Regions from separate parts of the Homo sapiens genome. Here region 2 is linked to region 1. Evidence: fine-mapped expression QTL. A gene starts in region 1. The other region holds a variant in brackets. All regions are shown on one strand. Distances are between the middles of the regions. Region 1 holds the start of CACNG8 (calcium voltage-gated channel auxiliary subunit gamma 8). Region 2 holds the start of MIR935 (microRNA 935).

The links.
Region 2: its variant is fine-mapped to the expression of CACNG8 in whole blood (INTERVAL, PIP 0.97).

What each region holds. Positions count from the first base shown.
Region 1 is chr19:53,955,397-53,967,197 of GRCh38, forward strand. CACNG8 (calcium voltage-gated channel auxiliary subunit gamma 8) reads left to right here and starts at 7,541. Exons shown (of 4, transcript NM_031895.6): 1 at 7,541-8,029. The coding sequence starts at 7,747. RefSeq lists enhancers at 1,926-2,460, 4,671-5,571, 6,382-6,902.
Region 2 is chr19:53,980,110-53,991,910 of GRCh38, forward strand. It overlaps CACNG8 (calcium voltage-gated channel auxiliary subunit gamma 8), which reads left to right. Exons shown (of 4, transcript NM_031895.6): 4 at 1,971-10,106. The coding sequence ends at 2,740. MIR935 (microRNA 935) reads left to right here and starts at 2,198; the gene lies at 2,198-2,288. It overlaps CACNG6 (calcium voltage-gated channel auxiliary subunit gamma 6), which reads left to right and starts at 11,528. Exons shown (of 4, transcript NM_145814.2): 1 at 11,528-11,801. RefSeq lists an enhancer at 1-406. The variant A/G (reference allele first, on the strand shown) is at 4,737.

The sequences.
Region 1 (11,801 bases):
TCTATGAAATGTCTAGAATGGGAAAATCTATACCGACAGAAAGTACATTAGTGATTGCCTAGGGCTGGAGTGGGTGCTTAGATTGGGGGTGATGGCTAAGGAGTACACAGTATCTCCTTGGACTAATGAAAATATTCTAAAAGTGATCTGAAGTTGATGATTGCACAGCTCTGTACAATTAAAAGCCGTTGAATTGTACACTTTAAGTGGGTGAATTGCATGATATGTGAATTCGATCTCAATAAAGCTGTGAAAAAAAGAGATATACTCTTTAGTTGTTGAAATAAATCATGATGTAATCATGCATCACTTAGTGTCACAAAATTACCAATAGAAGAACTAACACTTGAGGAAGAAGGGAAGGAAAAGTGAGGGCTGCATGAATTGATTTGTTATCTATTAGAGAAAAAATATCTATAAATAATGTATAATTTTGATTCCAAAAGAAAATCATTATTTAGGGATGTCAAGGCAAGTAAGAGAAGAAATAGCTAAGAATATTAATAGACGGCCGGGTGTGGTGGCTCATGCCTGTAATCCCAGCACTTTGGGAGGCCGAGGCAGGCAGATCAAGAGGTCAGGAGATCAACACCATCCTGGCCAACATGGTGAAACCCCATCTCTACTAAAAATGTAAAAATTAGCTGGGCATGTTGCTGCATGTCTGTAATCCCAGCTACTCGGGAGGCTGAGGCACAAGAATGGCCTGAACTCGGCAGGCAGAAGTTGCAGTGAGCCGAGATTGCGCCATTGCACTCCAGCCTGGCGACAGAGTGAGACTCCGTCTCAAGTAACAAGAACAAAAGCAAAAACAAGAATGTTAATAGACTTTTCCAATAAGGAAAAGGACTTGAGGTGGAACAGGCTAAATTATTTTTATTGTAGTCCCTTGTGTACCATTTGATTTTTTTTCTTTTCTTTTTTTAAACCATGAGCCTATATTGATTGGACTAGGAAATATATTTTCATTTAAAATAAAATAAAGAGGTTTCCCCCAGTTGCTAGTTCGTATAATTTAATAGTTCTCAACAGGGGCGATTTTGTTCCCCAAGGGACATTGAGCAATGTTTGGAGACATTTTTGGTTGTCCCCAAATGCTATTTTTAGGGTGCTATTTGGAGGTGCTATTGGCATCTAGTGGATAGAGGCGAGGAGTACTGCTCAGCATTCTACAATGCACAGGACAGCCTCCACCACACAAAATTATCCAGCCCAAATGTTGAGAACGTTGAGATTGGGAAACCCTGGCTTTAAAAAATTATCTTCATAGTCGTTCTCACCAGTGCAGTTGTATCAGCACAGGCTCTGGAATTTGATGTCCTGATGAATGTCCTCCAATACAACTGACCTCTCAACCTCAGTTTTCACATCTTTAAAGTGGAGGCTGCTAACAGAACCCACTTCTTTTGAAGATGGAACCAATACCCTCAGGCTCCTTGGAGTCTGTAATATTAAATGCCCAGTTTGTTTTTATTTTTATTTTTTTCGAGACGGAGTTTCACTCTTGTTGTCCAGGCTGGAGTGCAACGGTTCGATCTCAGCTCACTGCAGCCTCCACCTCCCTGGTTCCAGTGACTCTCCTGCCTCAGCCTCCCAAGTAGCTGGGATTACAAGCATGCACCACCATGCCCGGCTAATTTTGTATTTTTAGTAGAGACGGGGTTTCACCATGTTGGTCAGGCTGGTCTCAAACTCCTGACCTCAGGTGATCCGCCCGCCTCGGCCTCCCAAATTGCTAGGGTTACAGGCATGAGACACTGCACCCAGCCTAAATGTCCAGTTTATATTGGTTATCATCATTGTTTGCTGATGTATCTCCCCCCGCATCCCCCAGCAAAAGAGCAGAAAATAATCAACTTTCCTCAAACGAATGAATTCCAGACCCCTTCCCTTGGGGGCTGTGTTTCTTAGCTTCTAAACCAGGAGTGTTGGAATGCATGTCTAAACTTTCTCCCATGGGGCGGGGTGAGAATTAAGTGAAACGACCTAAAGAAATTTCAGTAGAAATGTGAGATGCTGGGGACTGAAAGATATCGCCCCTCCAAAGGAAGGAACCAGCAGGAGCAAACACTAGGTAAATAGATTTAGGGAACACAGGTTATTCCTGTTTCTGCCAGCCCCCAGGAGGGAGCAGTAAAGGTGTGCTGGGTTAAATGACTATGAATTTCACCTATTGTTGGCCGCCCTCCACCCCCATAACCCCTATTGTCTCAGAGCCTCAGGTTACTCATGGTTAATGTAGGAACATTGGTGCCCACACGGCAAAGATTCTGTAGGACTTCTGTAAGACAGCGAAGCATGCCAACAGCCTTCAATCAGCCATGGCTACTAGTTCTTAGTTTCTGATAACATTTTTACGAGGATCGGGTCTTGAGTAAACGGCTTGCCTAGAGCCACGTGCAATCCCACTTCCCATCCGCGTTCTCACTTGGTTGGAGGCAGCTTCTGTGCCCTTTATAACCAAGAGCAACTGAGTATAGAGGAGAAGAAGTGTTTTGTCCAAGGTCACACGAAGCCTTGGGAGCATCCGTGAAATTTGGACCCAAGACCGAACTTTCAGACTCTGATCTCAGACTTTCCACCTCCGATTGTTCCACTTCCCCAACCTACTAGCTAGTTCTAGAACGGACAGATCCATGCTTCTCAAAACTGTTGCATAGACCCCTACCCAGTCCCAGACAAGTTTCTTTAAGACATATTTGCACCCAAGCTTTTGGCATTCTACTCTCCTTCCCAGCCCCAGCCCCATCTCGGGGGCATCTAACTCTACCCCTTCTTCCCCATCAGGTTTGAACTAGGGGAGGGGAGGGGGATGAGAAGAGAAAAGAAAAAATTGTTGGTGAAAGTCAAAAGGCTTGTTAACGTGGTAAGTTCAATATTGTTTTATCTGGGGTGGTGGGGGGGGAATCTTTGCCCTCGCCACTTGGAGGAGGAGCGGTGGGAAGACCCCGGGAAGTTGCGCTTTCCCTTGGATTTTGGGAAAGGGGAGCATTCCTGGGGTCCTTTTGAAAAGGCCCTCCCCTCATTTCCGGCCGCCGCTGCCAGCCTTGGCTGGGCGCCTGGATCCTGTTGCTATGACGACAGGAAGAGGCGGTGGCGGCGGCAAGCGATGCTGAAGAGAGATGGAGGCTAGTGGGGGTGGGGGTGGTGGCATTGGAATGGGGGAGGGGGCAGGGATCCGGGGCTGGGGACGCGGGAGGGGGCGGGGGCAGGGGTATCCTTCATCTCTGACCTCCTCGGGGCTTCTCAGCCTCACCCCTCTCCCGTTATTTTTTCTGGGCTTCCTTCGGGTGCATCCCCAGTCTCTGTGTCTGCCTCTGTTTCTCTGGATCTCTCTCTCTTCCTGTCTCAGTCCCTCTCCGTCTGTCTCTCTCTGGGTCTCCCTCTTTTCCTGCACTTGCCTTTCTTTCCCCAGGTACCTTCTGCCATCCAGGCCCTTCTACCCTCCATTTCTTTCATTTACTATCTTGCTCCCCCGCTCCCTCTCCGCATCTTCTTCTCTCTTTAAAGCTTCCTTCTCTCTAGCAAGACCTTGCCCCCATCCCCAATTTCTCTCCCTACCCGCTCTCCATTTCATTCCCTCTCCCCCCTCTCTCCCCCATCCTCTCAGTCTCTCTCTTTCTGTCTGTCTCTCCCCATCTGTCCCTCCTCCCTCCTCTCTGGATGACTCTCTCCCTCTCTCTTCTTTCCTTCTGTTTCCCAGATCCTGACCCCCCCCACACACACACTTACCCCAGCCCTCCCCCACCCCCTCCCCCCCAGCCCCTGCGTTTCTCTCTTTGAGTCTCTGTCCCTGTCCCCTTCTCTCTCTGGATATTTCTCTGTGTGTATCTCTCCAACTTCCTTCTGCTTCCAGCCGCTGCCTCCCCCAAATTTCTCCCTCCCCCATTTCTGTTTCGCGGTCTCTGGGTCTCTCTCTTTCCGTTTCTCCTCGTCTCTCTCTGTCTCTCTCCCTCCCTCTCTGGATCTCTCTCTTCTCCTCCGGCTTCCTTCTGCCACTCGACCCTGCCCCCCTCTTTCCCTTCCCCCATCCATCTCCTCTCCGAGGCTCCCCATCCCTCAGCAGCTCCCCTCCCCCTCCCTCCCTACTCCCTCCCTCTCGTCCTCCAGCTCCGCACTTTACCCAGCGACACGAGAACCAAATTGTCTCCTCACCTTTTTTTTTTAATATATATATCCCGACCCTCACTCCCTTGGGGCCCAGGCTCAGAGCTGCCCCCCAGCCCCAGCCTGACCTCAGCACCCCCATTCCCCATACGCCTCCTCATCTCCACTCCCCGAACCAGGTCGGACGCCTGGGTCCCTCACTGCTGGGGGAGGGGGAAGCAGCGAGAATTGGGAGCCAAAAGGTTTTTCTGGGGGGGGTGCCAACAGGGGGGGCTCGACGTCCCCTCCTCCGTGCATCGGAGAGTTGACCTATCATTAACAGAGGTGAGACAGATCTTTTTATTAATCGGAGGTGGGTGGAGGTAGAATTAATGTTCTGTGATCCCCCCCCCCGAATTCTGGAGAAAAGAGCTGGTCCCCTTCCTAAGGAGAAAGGAGAGTGACCCCCTCATATCCGGAAGCTTTAGAATTGGGGGTCCCCAGCTCTCTTCTCCCTGGCAGCTGCTGAACGATGGACTAAGAGTCCCTAAAACCAGATTGTGCCCCAAATTGACAAAATGAAAAGATCTTCGAATCTTTTTTTTTTTTTTTGGACGGAAGGAGAATTTCCCTCCTTTCCCTCCTCTTCCCTTCCCCTCTTATCCCAGGTTGTTAGGGGCCTGGGGTCACAGGCTTACCCCACTGAGAGCAGATATCTGTTAAGACAGGGTAGGTGGCCCTGCTGGTGGTGAGGGGCACCAATTCGGGGAGAAGAGGCCAAGAGATCAAGAAGAGAGGAAACTCAGCATGCGGACAGAAAAGAGAGGAAGGGGCCGGCGCCCAGGCCGGGAGGCTGGGGGTTGCCCTGTCCAGCGGGCTGCTGAACTGTGGCCTGAGGAAGGGCTGTGTGTGGGCAGACGGGAGTTGAGGTGGGGGAGGGAACACAACGTGTGGGGCACTAGGCCCAGTTGCCATGGAGACACCCCCCATAGACAACCTTTTTCCACAGCCCCTCCTCGGAGCAGCCCCAGTCTGAGGCCAGCTGATGGGGGGCAGTGGAGACGGGCAAGCAATCAGGAGGCCAAGGTCACCCTGTACTGGGACCTAGGTTCTGGTTTTTGTTTTGTTTTTTTTTAATCCCCTCTTCGTCTAAGGTTTCCAGGCTCTTAACTATAGTGGGTTTGGGGGAAGAAGTTGAAGAAGCAGTGTGGAAGCAAGTAAGGAGTACATCCCCCAGAGGACAGTTGGGGTGGGGGAGACAGGCAGGGCTGGGGGCATGGTGGTCGGGGGAGAATGTGGAAGAGAGAAATGAAGGAGCCACGGGGCAGCGGGTGCAGGCTGGGAAAGTATTCCTAATTGAAAAGAGAGTTGTAGTCTTGCGGATCACATTTTTCAGAGGGACACAGTCTACTGGGGGGGCTCTTTCTGCATGTGGAAGAAGATGAGGGGCTACAGTGTGTGTTCCTGTACAGGTGAAGTCGTAGAGGGGAGTACTGGGGGGCGTTCCCAAGAAGGGAAGCCTGTGGGGGCCTGCGGAGGGGATTTTCCGGGGCAGAGGAGAACCTGGGAGCTATAGCGGTGGAGCAAGAGGAAGTGAGTCAAGGGAATTCTATATGATGAGAGAGAAGTTGGGGAGGATGCTTCCTGGTACATTGAAGAGAGAGTGGGCTTCAAAGTGAGTTAGGGGGATCTCAAGTTGGGGGAAACAGTGTGCTGAAGATCCCGTGTGATGATGAAGGGCTACGAGGAGGGGATTTGGAGGCAGTGGGAGCTGCTGTGAGTGCAGAGGGGCGGGTGGGTGGTACAGTGTGCCCCCTGCTATGGGAGTACAGGGCAGAGATTGGAATGGTCCTGAGTGGAGAGACATTTGGGGTCTGGAGGAAGCCATTCTTGCGAGTAGAAAATGCCGTGGAACTCACGGAGGAAATTTTTCTTAATGGAGGAGAAAACGATGGTTATGATATGAGTTCGTTTAAGTTGTGGGGGGGGGGGTGGCGGGGTGGGAAGATTCAGAAAACTCTTCTAAAGCAAAAGAGAGGGTGGGGGTTTTCCTGGAGTAAAGGCATAGTATGGGGTGGGGAGTGAGTGGCTTGTGGGGAGACAGTGGGGGCTGTGACAGGGAATGGGCTGGAGATGGCGGGGGGGGGGCAGCTTGCAAACCAGTGGGTCTGATGTTGGGTGCATTAGAATTCCCCAGGGAGCTTTTAAAAACTTACATGCGCAGGCCACACTGCAGACCAACCATGTCGGACTTTCTCAGGTGGGACTCAAACATCCGAATTTTTAAGGTCCTCGGGTGATTTCCAGGTGTGTTGGAGGCTGCCCGAGGCAGGAAGGGGGCTTCCAGGGAGAGGAGGCTGACTGAGGGTGGCTGGTGATTCCGAGTTGCACAAACTGTGAGGGTCAGCTGGGATTTTCTTTTTCTTTTTCTTCTTCTTTTAATTTTTCCTTTTTAGTTGAAGAGAGGTTGAGAGATTTATTTTTTCCTAAGGAGAGGAAACTGTGGGGGACCATTTGGAGTGATGGAATGACAAAAGCCAGACCGGAGGGGGCTCGCGGAGGTTACTCCCACGGAAGTGGTGCTACTCGGGCTTCTTAAGTTGTGGAGACGCTCAGGGAAAAGTTGGGCTGACAGGGAAGGGTTCTAGCGGGTGGAGAGGTGGGGCTTGCAGGGGAAGAGTGGGGAGAGCTGGTGGGCGCCGCATGGTGATGGGGCGGGGGTCGCTAAGGAAGGAAGAACGCGACGGGGGCTCCTGGGGAGGAGGCGGCGGCGTGGGGCTTGGCATCATGGCGGGGGGTGGCTTCCCATGCGATGAGGATCGTGGAGCCCCCTGGGGCGGAGGCGGCGCGGGCTAGGGGCGAGGGCTGTGAGTGTGAGCGGTGGTGGGGACTCCTCCGAGTGGGGTTAGTGGGATGGTGGGACGACTTTCTTGGGCAGAAGACAGGAGTGGAGAGAGATTTCATCTTATTTATTAATTATTAGCGGTGGTGGGGACTCCTCCGAGTGGGGTTAGTGGGATGGTGGGACGACTTTCTTGGGCAGAAGACAGGAGTGGAGAGAGATTTCATCTTATTTATTAATTATTAGCGGTGGTGGGGACTCCTCCGAGTGGGGTTAGTGGGATGGTGGGACGACTTTCTTGGGCAGAAGACAGGAGTGGAGAGAGATTTCATCTTATTTATTAATTATTAGCGGTGGTGGGGACTCCTCCGAGTGGGGTTAGTGGGATGGTGGGATGACTTTCTTGGGCAGAAGACAAGAGTGGAGAGAGATTTCATCTTATTTATTAATTATTATTATTATTATTATTATTATTATTATTTTTGAGAAAGAGAAGCAGTGGAGCCCCGAGTGGAAGGAGTTTCTGGAGCTGAGGCAGGGATTTTGGGGGGGGGGGGGCGGGGACTGGGGGAGGTACCTGTGCCTTCTTCTCCTCTAATGCGAGATCTCGCTCCTTGCCCTCCACCAGCCGCCGACCATGGCCGCGCTCTGACCCCCTCCCCGGCCGCAGCCTCCTCCTCGCCGCCCCCCTCCCCAGCCCCGCCGGCCCCGGGCCCCCCGCTTCTGCCTGCGCTGTGAACCCCCCCCCAGCCGCCGGCACGGCCCCGCCCCCGCTGCCCCGGTGGTGGCCCACGGCCCCCCGGCTGCCCGTGGTCAAACTGGAGTCGCTGAAGCGCTGGAACGAAGAGCGGGGCCTCTGGTGCGAGAAGGGGGTGCAGGTGCTGCTGACGACGGTGGGCGCCTTCGCCGCCTTCGGCCTCATGACCATCGCCATCAGCACTGACTACTGGCTCTACACGCGCGCCCTCATCTGCAACACCACCAACCTCACGGCCGGCGGCGACGACGGGACCCCCCACCGCGGGGGCGGCGGCGCCTCGGAGAAGAAGGACCCCGGCGGCCTCACGCACTCGGGCCTCTGGAGGATCTGCTGCCTGGAAGGTAGGGTGCGGGCGGCCCTCCCCGCAGCCCCCGCCGCTCCCCTCCGAGAGACCCTGAGCCTCCCGGGGCTGCCTGTCCCTGATCCTGGGGCCCCCTTGGGCACCCCTCCTCCTCTGCCAGAGGGGCTTCTGCGCCTTCCCACTCGCGCCCCTGACCTCCTCTCCCCTCCTTCCCACTCCTCCCTGCGTCCTGGCACCCTGCGGAATTCCTCGGCATGCTCCCTCTGCAGCCCCTCTGCCTCTCCGCTGAACCCCCTTATCCTATCTTTCCCTAGTCCGTGTCTCCTGCGCTGCCCCATCACACCCCTGCATCTTCCCTCTCTCCAGTACCTGGGGCTCCTCCTGTTTCATTTCTTCCACTCTGCCCTGTGCCTTTTCTCTTTTTTTTTTTTTTTTTGACAAGGTCTCACTCTGTCGCCCAGGCTGGAGTACGGTGGCACAATCACAGCTCACTGCAGCCTCGAATCCCTAGGCTCAAGCCATCCTCCCACCTCTGCCTCCTGAGTAGCTGGGACCACAGGCATGAGCCACTGTGCCCAGCTAATTTTTTTTATTATTTGTAGAGATGAGGTCTCCTGTTGCCCAGGCTGGTCTCGAGCTCCTGAGCTCAAGAGATCCTCCTGCCTTGGCCTCCAAAGTGCTGGGATGAAGGGCATGAGCCACTGCACCCAGCAGCCTCTTTCTCCCTCTTTCCCGTCAGTTCATCTTGACCCTGCTCCTCCGCTCCACCTGCCCCTTCATTTCCTCTCCCTCGTGCCCCGTGACATCTTCTCTCTCCCGACATTTCCCCCCCAGTCCTCTGAAGTCCCCTGCCTCTCCCGCCCCCTTTCACGGCCCAGTCTTCCGGTCTGTCTCTTTCCCCTTCTCTTTGGCTGCTGCTCCCCTGAAACTTCGTGCCTTAACTCGCCCTCACTCATGACTTTCTCTCTTTTCTGCCTTGTGCTTCTCCTCCTGTTCATCTTTCTCTTCCCATCAGTGCCCCCACCCATGTCTCTCCCACCAGGGTGCCCTCCAACCTCCCATCCTGGTCCTTTCCTCCTTTTTCCTTTAGTGGACTCCACTTCCTCTTCCTCCACTCATGCCTCCTTCGACGTCTTCCTGACTCGATGCCTCAGGCCTTCACGTTAAGGCTTCTCGCTCCTGCCCCTGCTACCTCCTCGGATCTTCGACTTGGTTCTTTTCCTCTGTCCTGTTCTCCCTCTCACAGCTTCTCTCCTAGCTCGGCTCCCTGGCTCTCGACTTCCCCACTTCTCCAAGACTCCTGCCCTCTGCTGTGCCAACCCCTTCTCTCTCCCACTCTTAGCATCAGTATTTCTTTCCTGAGTATCAAGTAGCTGCGGGGCTGGGAAGCAGGAGTCTTGGGTGCCAGTTCTGCTGCATATCTGCCCTGCTGTGTGACCACTGTCTTCCCTCCTGCACCCCAGCCTCACAGCCCTTGTCTGCAACGTGAAGGAGTGGAACCAGCCATCCTGATGCCCCCTTCGGCCAAAAGATTGAAATCTCTTGCTTCTCTTTTTCATCCCCCTCTATTTCCTCTGCCCCTTCTTCCTCTGTTTTGCTGAGTGTTCACGACAAGCCGGGAACGTTATCTCGTTTAATCCTATGAGGTGGGCACCACCTCGCTGTTGGGGATGGGTAAACTGAGGCTCAGAGAAGTGAAGTCACTTGCCCAAGGTCACCTAGCTGAGAAAGGGGCCGAGCCAAGAGCAGAACTCGAATCTCATGGATGGGATTCACAGATGCGCTCTGTCTAGTGTACAAAGTGTTTAAAACTGAAAGCAAAATCTGAATCCATTGCCAACAGTTAAAAATAGGGAGGCTTCCCATTGTAGTTCTGATTTCCGGCTTCTTCTGAGCTGGCGGAAGATCTAGCACAAGCCTGTGTTCTACCCTGACCACGATGGGCCGGATCTGAGCAGCAGCTGGGGGGTCTCCACTTCCCCACAGTCACCTCCATCTGCTCCGTCTCGCCTCCCATTCCTCCCACGGCTCTCGTGATGTTCTTTGCCTCTCCTGTGGAAGTTTGAGTTCATGTCCATTCACTGGTCTGACCAAGTACCAGGCATAGAGCCAAGTGTGAGGGCTCCCATCATGGGAGCCCTAGGACAGCACGTGGCATCTAGTAGGGATGTCATTCATTCATTCATTCGTTCATTCAACGTCCCATTTTTATTGAGTTTATATTATGTGCCAGGCATTGTTCTGGATTCTGGGGCTGCAGCAGTGGAAAACAAACAGACAAAACCTCCTGTCGTTATATATCTTATATTCTAAGGGAGAGACAGATAATGATGGAGGTAAAGTCAACCTTTAGGGTGTTAGATAGAACTGAGTGCTAAGGAGGACAAGGAGTTGGGGGAGGGGATGGGAGGGGTCAGGGATCCCCGTGGGAAGTAGATAAGGAATCTAGGAAAAGCTTCCCCGAGCAGGTGACATTTGATCACAGGTCTGAAGGAAGTAAGAGATGGAGGAAAGTGCTTCAGACTGTAGGAATAGCAGGCGCAGAGGCCCTGAGGTGGGAGTGTGGCTGTGTGTTGATCAAGCCAGTGTGAGGTCAGCGTGGCCGGGGCAGAGTGGGTGGCGGAGAACGTAGGAGTAAGAGGTGCAGTCGTAGGGGTATCAGGGTCCCCATCCCACAGGTTCTGTTTTTTAAAAATTATTTATTTATTTATTTATTTATTGAAACAGAGTCTTGCTTTGTCACCCAAGCTGTAGTGCAGTGGCGTGATCTTGGCTTACTGCAACTTCGGCCTCCTGGGTTCAAGCGATTCTCATACCTCAGCCTCCCGAGTAGCTGGAATCACAGGTGTGTGCCACCATGCCCGGCTAATTTTTGTATTTTTAGTAGAGACAGGGTTTTACCATGTTGGCCAGGCTGGTCTCGAACTTCTGACCTCAAGTGATTGGCCCGCCTAGGCCTCCCAAAGTGCTGGGATTACAGATGTGAGCCACCATGCCTGGCCAGCTTCTGTGTTTGTTTTTGTTTTGTTTTTCTTTTTTTGTTTTTAGGCAGGGTTTTGCTCTGTCACCCAGGCTGGCGTGCAGTGGTAAGACCATAGCTCACTGCAGCCTTGAACCCCTGAACCCAAGCCGTCCTCTTGCCTCAGCCTCCCAAATAGCTAGAACTACAGGCACATGCCCCCATTTTTTGTAGACACAGGGTCTCACTATATTGCCCAGGCTGGTCTCAAACTCCTGGGCTCAAGCAATCCTCCGGCCTCAGCCTCCCGATGTGTTGGGATTACAGATGTCAGCCACTGCACCCGGCCTCACGGCTTCTTATACATCCCAGAAAGCACTTTGCTTTAGATTCGGAGATGGGAGCCGTTGAAGGTTCTTGAGCAGAGGAGTCACACGAGCTGACTTACATTTTTGCGGTATGTTTCTTGCTGCTGTGTTAACAAATGACCGAGGGGAAGGCAAATGAGACAACGAGAGGCTCATCTAGGGTGGGGGCAGCAGGGTTTGGGAAGTTGTTTGAATTTTGAGTATATTCTGGAGCTACCGTGGGCAGGAGTTGCTGATGGAGCAGTTGTAGGATATGAGAGAGAAGAGCCAGGGGCGTCTCCAAAGCAGGGTTTTTCCACCGCAGCATGGTTGATATTTTGGGGTGGATAATTCTGTGTGGAGGGGCCGTCCTATGCATTGTAGGATGCTGAGCAACAGCCTTGATCTCTCCTACTAGGATGCCAGCAGCGCCCTTCCCAGTCGTGACAACCAAAATTGTAAATTGTGTCTAAACATTGTCAGCTGTCTCCTGGGGGATAAAATCG
Region 2 (11,801 bases), 25 kb after region 1:
GCGCGTTCGTGTGTCTGCAAAGCCACCTTGCCCCGAGCACCCCCGGGGGCCCGGAGCCTTCCTAGGCGGTCCCCAAGCTCCATCGCCACCCGCTGGGTAAGGTGGGTGTAGTTCTCGCGTCGCCTTCGGAGGAGTAAACCGACACAGGCAGGTGTCTGGCGCGTAAGACGCCGGGCGCTTAGGATCCCAAGCCCGCCGTCCTGGAGACGGAAGGGGAGGAGCTGGGGAGGGGGTGGGACCTTGAGACACAATTGGGCTCTTGAGGATAGAGAGGCGGGGCTGGGTCTTGGAGGGCGGGCCCAGGAGAGGTAGAAAGTGATCTGAGCGCCGATGAGGAGCCTGCTTTAAGGGGCGGGCCTTTGGAGACTTTGGTGGATCCAAGAGGGGGCTGGTCCTGGGAAACCGTCCAGGGCCGGGAAGTGGAAACTAAAGGGGCTGGGTAAGGGAGACTGAATCGGCCCTTGCCCGTGGCCATTTGGAGAAGGAGAGGCTAGAAAAGACGGGGCGATGCCTGGAAAAGCCAAAGGGGGAGGGGTTATGTCCTTAAGGGCACAGAGAATCAACCTGGCTGATTGAAGCAAGAGGCCGACCAAAGCCAGTCAGTACCTGGGATTGGCCGTCTCAAGAGCTAGGGCCTAGACGAGCAGAGAGCTAGGACTGGAACACTTAAGAGGCACGCAATTAAGGGGTAAGGCCCCCTTTCTACCCCGTATGAGTAGCATTGGGAAATTCCAGGGGCAGAGCTTTTTTGGAGGAGTAGAATACAGAGAAGAGGGAGGGCTTTGCATATTTGAAGAGCAGGGTGTGCTTTGGGGATGGGTCTAGATCTGCAAGGGGTGGGGCTTGGAGGATCTGAAAGGCCGGAGTAGCTGGACCTGAGACCGGCAAGGACCCGAGACCGGCAAGGACCCTGGCCAAGATCCGCACGGGGCGGGGTTTGGTAAGCTGGAGGTGGGGCCTAGAGTAGAAGGCGGGGCCTGCTTTATTAAAGGCAAATTTTTGACCAGTAGGGGAGGGCCTAGAATGGATACTCCGGCAGGAATTATATGAAGAGAGATTAGATAAGTGAAAGGCAGGGCCTGATCACAGCAGGATGACATCATTAACAGAGTTCAAAGGAGCAGAGGGATGAGGCTTGGGAAAAACCCAGGTTTATAACGTTAAGGGTGGAGGTAGACTAACTAGGGCAGGGCCTGGAAACTCATCTCATCAAAGGTGGGTTTTAGACCAGTCAGGGCAGGGCCTGGACTCGCTGGGAGTGGGGCTTAGGCCACCTAGGGGTGGGGCCTGGACCGCTTGGGGTGGAGTTACCACCAGCCAGGGTGGGGTTTAGACCAGCAGAGTTGGGACCTTAGCTAGAGGAGTGGGGTTTATGCCATGTGGGGGCAGCCCAGACCATCTGGGGGTGGGTCCTAGACCACCTGGGGCAGAGTTTAGACCAGCCAGGGCTGGGTTAGACCGGCAGAGGTGGGCCGTGGGCTATCTGGGGGCAGGACCTGGACCATCCAGGGCCGTGTCTGGACCATTCAGGGCAGGGCCTGGACCACCTGGGGGTGGAATTTAGACCATCTGAGGGGGTGCTTGAGCCTGCCTGGGCCAGGACCACGCATGATGCAGTCTGGACCATTGGCGGCCCTACACCACCTGGGGGATGGAGTTTCGACCAGCCGGGGTTGGATTAGACCAGCAGAGGTGAGGCCTGGGCCAGCTAAGAGTGGGCCGGAGCCCTCTGGGTTGGAGCTTAGACCAGCAGGGAAGCGCCTAGAGCATCGGGCGGGGAGTTGTGTTCACTTCTGGCAGGACTTGGGTCAGCCAGATCCAGGACGGGGGTCTAGACCACTCGGGGTGGGGCCTAGACCGCCTGGGGGTGGCGCCTGGGCCCGCTGGCGCAGGCGGGCAGGGGTCGGGGCCGGGGGCGGGGGCGGGGCCGGGGGTGGCCTCGAGGCTCCCGTCTGACCGTCCCCGCCCAGGCCTGAGCAACATCATCGGCGTGATCGTGTACATCTCCGCCAACGCGGGCGAGCCGGGCCCGAAGCGGGACGAGGAGAAGAAAAACCACTACTCGTACGGCTGGTCCTTCTACTTCGGCGGGCTGTCGTTCATCCTGGCCGAGGTGATAGGCGTGCTGGCCGTCAACATCTACATCGAGCGCAGCCGCGAGGCGCACTGCCAGTCTCGCTCGGACCTGCTCAAGGCCGGCGGGGGCGCGGGCGGCAGTGGCGGGAGCGGCCCCTCGGCCATCCTCCGTCTGCCCAGTTACCGCTTCCGCTACCGCCGCCGCTCCCGCTCTAGCTCCCGCTCCAGCGAGCCGTCGCCGTCGCGGGACGCGTCTCCCGGCGGCCCCGGGGGCCCGGGCTTTGCCTCCACGGACATCTCCATGTACACGCTCAGCCGCGACCCCTCCAAGGGCAGCGTGGCCGCGGGGCTGGCGGGGGCCGGCGGCGGCGGCGGCGGCGCCGTGGGGGCGTTCGGCGGCGCGGCCGGGGGCGCCGGGGGCGGCGGCGGAGGCGGCGGCGGGGCGGGTGCCGAGCGGGACCGCGGGGGGGCGTCCGGCTTCCTCACGCTGCACAACGCCTTCCCCAAGGAGGCGGGCGGCGGCGTCACGGTCACGGTCACCGGGCCGCCCGCCCCGCCCGCGCCCGCGCCACCCGCGCCCTCTGCGCCCGCCCCCGGGACCCTGGCCAAGGAGGCCGCCGCCTCCAACACCAACACGCTCAACAGGAAAACCACGCCTGTGTAGGGGCGCGGCGGGGGAGCCGAGGGGCGTGTCCGGGGCGCGTGCGCGGGCGCGCGTGCATCGAGGCTGCCGGGGTCGGGGGCGCCCCCGCTTTCCCCCGTGAGCGCGCTGGAGACTGCTGGGCCCGCCCCACGCCCACCCTCCCCGCCCCCCTCCCCCTCCGAAGCAGGGACCCCGAGGGAGGGGGCAGGGGAGGGAGGGGGCCGCTGTGAGGGAGCGTCGTGTTTTATTTTTTTGGGGGATCTATGGGGAGGGGGGAGGGCCATGGTGTTTTTTGCAGTTTCGAGATGTTTTCTTTTTCATGTTTTGCTGTGTGCATGGGGGGCGGGGCGGGGGGAGGGGAGGGAGGGACTCCCAGCCCAGCCCAACTCCTGGAGAGGGGCCCATAATACACGAATACATAGTTACACCCACAAACTATATATATGCCCTATATAAAGAGACACAGCGAAGGGATGCAGAAAGGCAGAAAGAAGGGTTGGACGCGGGCATTCATTCATTTTTTTCATTCATTATTCCACAAGGGCTTATTAAGCACCTACTGTGTACCAGGCACTGGTACATAAGAAGGCATTGGAGCAGGGGACACGAACGAGGCACAGAAAGGGCCTTCTCATTCATTCATTCATTACCGGCAATTTATTTGTGCGCCTTAAAAAGCTAGGCATTGTGCTCCGTGCTCAGCGTGCAGGAGGCAGGAAAACAGCCAGGGGCCCCGACGTCTCATAGAGTAAACATCTTGTGCATGAGACAGGCATTAATCGATCATGTACATACACAATAAATTACAGTTAGGCTATAGGAGAAACGAGATGCTATGAAATGCTCCATCAGGGGAGCCTAACCCAGTTGTGAGGAAGAGATTTCAGTGGACAGTGAAAGGATGAGAAGAAGCCAGCAGGGCGGAGCTGGGGCAGGAGTGTGGCAGGCAGAGCAGCACGTGCAAAGGCCCCGGGGCAGGAAGGAGCTTGCAGCGAGGGCTGAAGGGTAGTGAGGCAGGTGAGCGGGGATCAAGGTGAGGCCGGAGACACAGACAGGGCCAGATTGTGCAGGGGCTCGTAGGTCAGGAGTTCAGATTTTATTCTAGGAGTGGTGAGGGCCGTGGAACGGGTTTAAGCAGGACGCTAACGTGAATGGTGTACAAAGGGAAGACAGGAACTCGGAGGCAAGAGTAGGAGGCAGAGATGTGCTGAAATACAGCATCAAACATGGGCACGGGCCCTTGGAGCTCACACTCTTGTGGGAGGAAGCACGTAATTACACAGATGCTGAAGCATAGTCATGGTGTCTGGTGTGCAGGAGAAAGCCGTGGGGCTTAGAGACTCATGTGTCTGTCACTCGTTCATTCAGCCACTCACCCATTGCCATTTTTGGCCATCTGCTAAGGTACCAGGAAGTGTGTTAGGATCCAGATCCCCAGGGGTGAAACAGACTCTAGCCCTGCTCTCAAGCAGTTTATTGTCATCAAACACCGCCATCCAGGCAGGGCAATCGGTGCTGGAACCCGGACCACCGTGGGTACCGTGGCACACGGTGGACAGAGTGACCAACTGCCAGGAGTGAGCAGCACTTGGGGTAGGCTTCCTGGAGAATATGATGCCCATTCTGGGTCTTGAAGAAATGAGTGGGCATCTTCTGGTTGATGAAAGGCATGAGAAAGGCTTGTGGGGCCAAAGAACAACTTGGGTGAAAACGGGAGGAAGTGAACGAGCATGATGTATTGGGGTCAGTGCTAACAGTTCTGGGATGCTGATGTACAAGGTGGGGCTGGGAGATGAGGCCGGGAAAGTAGCCACAAGCTAGAGTGTAAAGGTACCAGGGTGGCCGGGCGCGGTGGCTCATGCCTGTAATCCCAGCGCTTTGGGAGGCTGAGGCTGGAGTATCACTTGAGCCCAGGAGTTTGAGACCAGCCTGGATAACATGGCGAAACCCTGTCTCTACAAAACATTAAAAAAAATTAGCCGGGCGTGGTGGAGCACACCTGTGGACACAGCTACTC[A/G]GGAGGCTGAGGGAGGAGGACCATTTGACTCCAAGAGTTCGAGGCTGCAGTGAGCTAGGATCGCGGCACTACACTCCAGCCTGAGCAACAGACTGAGATCCTGTCTCAGAAAAAAAGAGAAAAAGGTGCCTGAGTTCCAGGCAGAGGGACTGAGGCTCTTCTAAGGATGGTGAGAGAGGATGACAGCTGCGCGGGGGCAAGGGCTGTGCGGTGATTGGAGGGGATGGGTTTGAAGTTCACTGAGAAGGCAGAGGGGACAGCGCCCAGTAGGCTTCCCTTCCATATTTGCTCAGCAAGTGTTTCCTGAGGCCTCCCCCGAAGCCTTGTGCTGGGCGGTGCTGGGAGTGGAGAGGTGATTTTGATCTTGCCCTGCTCTCAAGGGGCTCCCAGTCTGGCGGGAAAACAGGCACAGACGCAGCTTGAGGAGGACGTGGCAGCGGTGGTGCCATGCTGCCAGGGGCTCTGCGTGCCCTTCTCTTGACGGAAGGGTACAGATCAGAGCTGGGTGTTCAGAATTTCTCTCCGAGGCCTGTGTGGAAGGACCAGGAAGAGAGAGACTGAAGGTCCCTAGGAAGAATTCTGCCAAGGCGGTTTCAGGAAGAGATGCTGGGAAATGTAGGAAAAGGAATACAAATCAGTGAGACGGAGAAGCGCTGAGTGAGAGAGACGGATACGTGGAGAGAAGAGGGATGCCGGAGCGGGTGTTAAAAGAGACAAATCTGGCCGGGTGCTGTGGCTCCTAATCCCAGCACTTTGGGAGACTGAGGCAGGCAGATTGAGCTCAGGAGTTCCAGACCAGCCAACATATTGAAATCTTGTCTCTACCAAAAATACAAAAATTAGCCGGGTGTGGTGGTGCACGCCTGTAGTCCCGGCTACTCAGGAGGCTGAGGTGAAAGGATCTCGCTTGGGCCTGGGAGGGTGAGGCTGCAGTGACCCGTGATGGCACCACTGCGCTCCAGCCTGGGCGAAAGAGCGAGACTCTGTCTCAAAAAAAAAAAAAAAATTGAGAGACAGCAAATATTTGCTGGAAGAGGGAGAGGGAACTGGTTAGGGGAGAATGGATTCTAGAGTCTGAAGGCCAAACAGAACGAGAGAGAGAGAGAGAGAGAGAGAAAGAATGAGGTTGAGGGTAGGCAGGAGGAAGAGCAAGATGGGGAGGGAGGGGGAGAGCAGGAGAGACCAAACTAGTAGAGTCACAGACAGAGAAAAAGTCAAAGACAGGAAGGTGATACAGAGGAGAGAGAAGAGGAAGAGGAGAGACTGACAGGTGCACAAATCAGAGAAGTCCCAGAGATAGCAGAAACACACACAGAGACAGAGATAGAGAGGGAGAGGTAAGCCGGAGACAGACTCAGAGATTCGCACAAAAAGCAACGTGGAGACTCAGAAGCAAGCGCAGCGTCAAGGAATGCTCCATTTCTGGTGTGTTGTTTTCCCAGTATTCAAGAAATATTTATTGAGTGCCAACCTGTTCTAGACCCAATCTCGGCCAGGGGATGTGGTGGCAAATAGACGGACAAGGGCCTGCTCTCCTGAAACACACTGGAGAGATAAACAATAAATAATATCATTTCAGTAACCAAAAAGTGCTTTAAAAATTAAGCTGAAGGCCGGGCGCAGTGGCTCATGCCTGTAATCCCAGCACTTTGGGAGGCCGAGGCTGGTGGATCACTTGAGGTCAGGAGTTCGAGACCAGCCTGGTCAACATGGTGAAACTTCATCTCTACCAATAAATAAATAAAGTAGCTGGGTGTGCTGGTGTGCCTGTAGTCCCAGCTACTTGGGAGGCTGAGAAAGAAGGATCACTTGAACCCAGGAGGCAGAGGTTGCAGTGAGCTGAGATCGCGCCACTGCACTCCAGCCTGGGCGACAGTGAGTGGTAACAGAATGACAGAGCAAGGATGACTTTAGATGAGGTCCTTGGAGTAGACCTTGTGGCAGAGGTCACAGAGATGTGGATTGTGAGTAGGAAAGAGAGGTGAGAAAGTCTGGGGGCCAGGCATTCCACCCACCAGAGGCAGCCCCAAAGCCCAGAAAAGTAGCAGGTCTTCGAGGAGGCCTGTGCGGTGAGCAGATCCACCATAGGACAGAGGCACAGGGTAGGGGCTGATCAGTTAGGGCCTTGGATCCTTGGGAAGAAATCTGAATTTTATTCTAGATCTGATGGGAAGTGCTTGGAGGGTTTTGAGCACAGGCATGCCATGATCATATTTTTATTTTCTTATTTATATTTATTTTGAAAAAGAGTCTTGCTCTGTCTCAGGCTGGAGTCCAGTGGGCTGATCTCGGCTCACTGCCAACCTCCGCCTCCCAAGTTCAAGTGATTCTCCTGCCTCAGCCTCCTGAGTAGCTGGGATTACAGGCATGTGCCACCACGCCTGGCTAATTTTTTTGTATTTTTAGTAAAGACGGGATTTCACCGTGTTGGCCAGGCCAATCTGAAATTCCTGGCTTCAAATGATCCACCTGCCTCGGCCTCCCAAAATGCTGGGATTACAGGAGTGAGCCACTGCGCCCGGCCTCATATTTTTATTTAAACAAGAACAGCAGAATTACATTGCTGTGCTGAGCATACGTAGACTTCAGGAGTCAAAGGGGAAGGAAGGAGGTAGCGGGCTGTTGCCTTCCTCTGGTTGCTGGAGGCCTGGACCAAGGTGGAGTTAGTGGGATGGAGGAAGTGGAAGAAGGCATGGGATTTTGGAGGCTAGAGCCTGCATTGGTGGTGAACTGGATGTCATAGAGGAGGGAAGGAAAAGGAACCAGGAAGAGAAGAACTCTCTGAATTGGGCACGCACATCTCTGATGGGCACCGATGAGGATTGTTACCAGGAACGAGGAGACTGGGATCAGGAAAGTGGCTTTGGGAGGGAGGAACCAAGGCTTCTCTTTTGGATGTGTCAAGATAGATCTGCCTTCGAGAAATCCGAGTTGTGGTATCAAATAGCCAGTTGGATATGTGAGACTGGAGTTTGGGGGAAAGAGAGGCCGTGGCTCAAAAACGTAAGTTTTGGAAACGTCAACATAAAGCCACAGGATTGGGTGACGTGGCCTAGCAGGGGGGTGGGGACAGAGAAGCGACCCTGGCCAGAGCCTTGGGGACATCTACATCTGGGGGAGAAGGGGATGTAGCAAAACGAGCTTAGGAGTGATCTCGAGGTAGGCTGAAACCAGGAGGGTTACAGAGGGCAAATGCACCTTTGTGTTTCAAGAAGGAGAGGAGACAGCCAGCTGTGCCAAGGGCTGCTGAGACTTGGACAAGGATGCAGAGAGCAGAGTGACCATTAGGTCTGATGACATGGACAGGGTTGGTGATCTTGATAAGATAAGATGTCAGTTCAGTGCAGTGGTGGGGACAGAAGCCCTGCTGGAGTGGAGGGGAGAGAGAATTTGGGGGGAAGACAGAAGGAAAGGGAATTCAGGCAAGTGTGTGTGTGTGTGTGTGTGTGTGTGTGTGTGTAACTGACACAAAGGCCAGGTGCGATGGCTCACGTGTGTAATCCCAGCACTTTGGGAGGCCGAAGTGGGTGGATCACTTGAGGTCAGGAGTTCGAGACCAGCCTGGCCAATATGGTGAAACCCCGTCTCTACTAAAAATACAGAAATTAGACAGGTGCGGTGGTGCACACCTGTAATCCCAGCTACTTGAGAGGCTGAAGCAGGAGAATCTCTTGGGCCCAGGAGGCAGAGGTTGCAGTGAGCCAAGATCACACCACTGCACTCTAGCCTGGGTGACAGAGCAAGACTCTGTCTCAAAAAAGAAAAAAGGTAAAAAAAAAAAAAAATGACCCTGAAAGGAAGTAGGGAGACATGCAGATAGGGAGATGGGAGGCAGAAAATTGCATCCTGCAATTAGCTGTCACAGCAGGCAGGAGCAAGAGAGATGGGGAAGCCCAGGGCCAGGAGGGGAAGATGAATTCAGGGGGCAGGGAAGAGAGGATGCTGTCAGCTAGGCTCTGGCAGATCCCCTAGCCAGGGATGCTCTGCCCAGCTCCTGTCTCTTGCTGCTGTCAGCGCCGGGCACACTCTGGGATTCCCCCTGTAGACCCTGTCAAGACCTATTGAGGTGAAGGGGAAGAACACGTTTTCATCATTCATTTTCAGAAATAAACATTCACTCAGTTCTTGGAAATACTTTCTGGCCAGGCTTGGGGGCTCATGCCTGTAATCCCAGCACTCTGGGAGGCCAAGACAGGAGGATTGCTTGAGGCTTGGCGTTTGAGACCAGCCTGGGCAATATAGTAAGACCCCGTCTCTACAAAAATGAAAAATGAGCTGTGGCGTGGTGGCTCACGCCTGTAGTCCTAGATACTCGGGAGGCTGAGGCGGGAGGATTGCTTGAGTCCAGGAGTTTAAGGTTGCAGTGAGCTATGATTGCACCATTGCACTTCAGGCTGGGCCACAGAGCAAGACCCTGTCTCAGAAAACAGAAAGAAAGAAAGTCAAAGAAATAAAGTCAAAGACAAGAAGGTGATACAGAGAAGACAGAAAAGGAGGAGGAGAGAGACTGACAGGTACACAAATCAGAGAAGTCCCAGAGATAACAAAAACACAACCACAGAGATAGGGAGACGTAAGCCGGAGAAAGACCCAGAGATTCGCATAGAAAGCAACGTGGAGACTCAGAAGCAAGCACAGCATCAAGGAATGATCAATAAAAAGAAAAAAAAATATTTCCTGAGGACTTCCAAGTACAAGGCCCTGCAATCTCAGGCCACTTCTGTCCCATCTCTGCCTTCAGAGGGGGGGACAGGTAGTCCAGACAATTAGAATACAGAGGGGGCTGTGTTCTGACGGGGCCACGCGGGCATTGAGGAAACGCAGCAGGCCCCTCCCCTAGCTGGGGCGGGGATGTCTGTGTGCCATCATCTCACTCCATCTGGTCATTCCTTTGCCCATTCATCCATCCATTCATTCAAGTCACCCCATGCACATTTTCCAAGACTGCCTGTGACCTGGCCCTGTGCCGGGTAGAGCTGAGGATGCCAAGGTGAATTCCTCCTGTGCCTGGCCCCGGCCCCAGTCTGCTGGAAGAACCAGACACAGACAATCACACTGCGGGGAAACACGTGCTCCATCGGAAAAGTCCAGAGCAGGGGGTGGGCAGAGAGGCCCAGCGTGCACCAGAGCCTCGCTCAGGTCAGCGCCAGGCCTGCCTGGAGCAGCCAACTGTGGGAGAAGAAGGAGTTGGTGAAAGGTGGGTCCCACCTGGGCCGTCCACAGAAGGGCTGAGGGGTAGGGGGTGAGGGGTTGAAGATCAGGCCCTGCCGCCATGCCACACGGCTGTCCTCTGTCCCTGCTCCTGGGGGAGCTGAAACTGCATGGAAGGTCCCCCAGGGGTGCCCCGTCTAATAAACTCGATGAAGAGGAGTGCTGCTTTCATTCTGTGCCCCTGACAGCCGGCCCTGCCCTGAGGCCTGCGCTTTCTCCAACATGGAAATCAGGCCTTCCATCCTTCAAGACCCAGGGTTCTGGCCCCAGTCTCCTCCCTGAGGCCCAGGACTCTGGGTCTGCCAACGCCTTGACCAGGAGTCCAGGCTCCCCGGCCCTCCTCCTCCCTCAGACCCAGGAGTCCAGGCCCAGCCCCTCCTCCCTCAGATCCAGGAGTCCAGGCCCCCTGCCCCCTCCTCCCTCAGACCCAGGAGTCCAGGCCCAGGCCTTCCTCCCTCAGACCCAGGAGCCCAGGCCCCCAGCCCCTCCTCCCTCAGACCCAGGAGCCCAGGCCCCCAGCCCCTCCTCCCTCAGACCCAGGAGCCCAGGCCCCCAGCCCCTCCTCCCTCAGACCCAGGAGTCCAGGCCCCCAGCCCCTCCTCCTTCAGACCCAGGAGTTCAGGCCCCAGTCCCTCCTCCCTCAGACCCAGAAGTCCAGGCCCCCAGCCCCTCCTCCCTCAGACTCAGGAGCCCAGGCCCCCAGCCCCTCCTCCCTCAGACCCAGGAGTCCAGGCCCCAGCCCCTCCTCCCTCAGACCCAGGAGTCCAGACCCCCAGCCCCTCCTCCCTCAGACCCAGGAGCCCAGGCCCCCAACCCCTCCTCCCTCAGACCCAGGAGTCCAGGCCCCCAGCCCCTCCTCCCTCAGACCCAGGAGTCCAGGCCCCCAGCCCCTCCTCCTTCAGACCCAGGAGTTCAGGCCCCAGTCCCTCCTCCCTCAGACCCAGAAGTCCAGGCCCCAGTCCCTCCTCCCTCAGACTCAGGAGCCCAGGCCCAGCCCCTCCTCCCTCAGACCCAGGAGTCCAGACCCCAGCCCCTCCTCCCTCAGACCCAGGAGTTCAGGCCCCCAGCCCCTCCTCCCTCAGACTCAGGAGCCCAGGACCTAGGAGACCAGGTTCCTCTCCTCTCAGATCCAAGATTCTGGGTACCCAGGCCTTCTTCCTCTACCACTCAGAAGTGGGGTACCGAGGCTTCTTCTCCCTTAGGGACCCAAGACTCCTGGCCTCAGGCCCTCCTCCCTGAGACCCGGGGCCCTGCCTCCCGCCCCTCCTCCCTGGTAACCCCAGTCAGACTTGCTGCCCCGCCCGTCTCCTGCTGCCCGGGAGACTGCGGAGCTGGGACTCTCGGCGCCGCTCTTGCCCCTTAGTGAAATGAAAGTCCCATCAGGCTCGGCCCCTTCCTCCCCGGGCGGCCTCCCTCCCCCCTTCCTCGTCCCCTTAAAACACCCGGGATCCCTATGGCAACAGGCGCCGGGCGACAGGTGCGGGTGTTATTTACGGGTCAAGCCCGAAATAGCCCCGAGGGTGGAGGGTGGAGGGTGGGGGGTGGGCGGGTGGGGACGAGGCCGGGCGCGGGCGGAGGCCAGGCCGGTGGCGGTGGCGGGCACAGCCGGACGCTTCGGAGGCAGCGCGGAGCTGGGGTCGGCGCGGGGCCGAGGCAGGAGAGCGAGAGGGGCCCCTGCTCGGGAGTCGGGGGTGGGAGCCCCGAGGGGGGGCCCTGGCCTGGGGCTGAGCCTGGCGCGAACCCGACCGGGAAGGCCCTGGGAGCCCGGGGGAGGGAGACGGACTGATCCCGAAGGGGCGCAGCGTCTCTTGCGGGTCGCGGTTGGCCTTTGAACCCTGGGGGGACTCAGTCCTG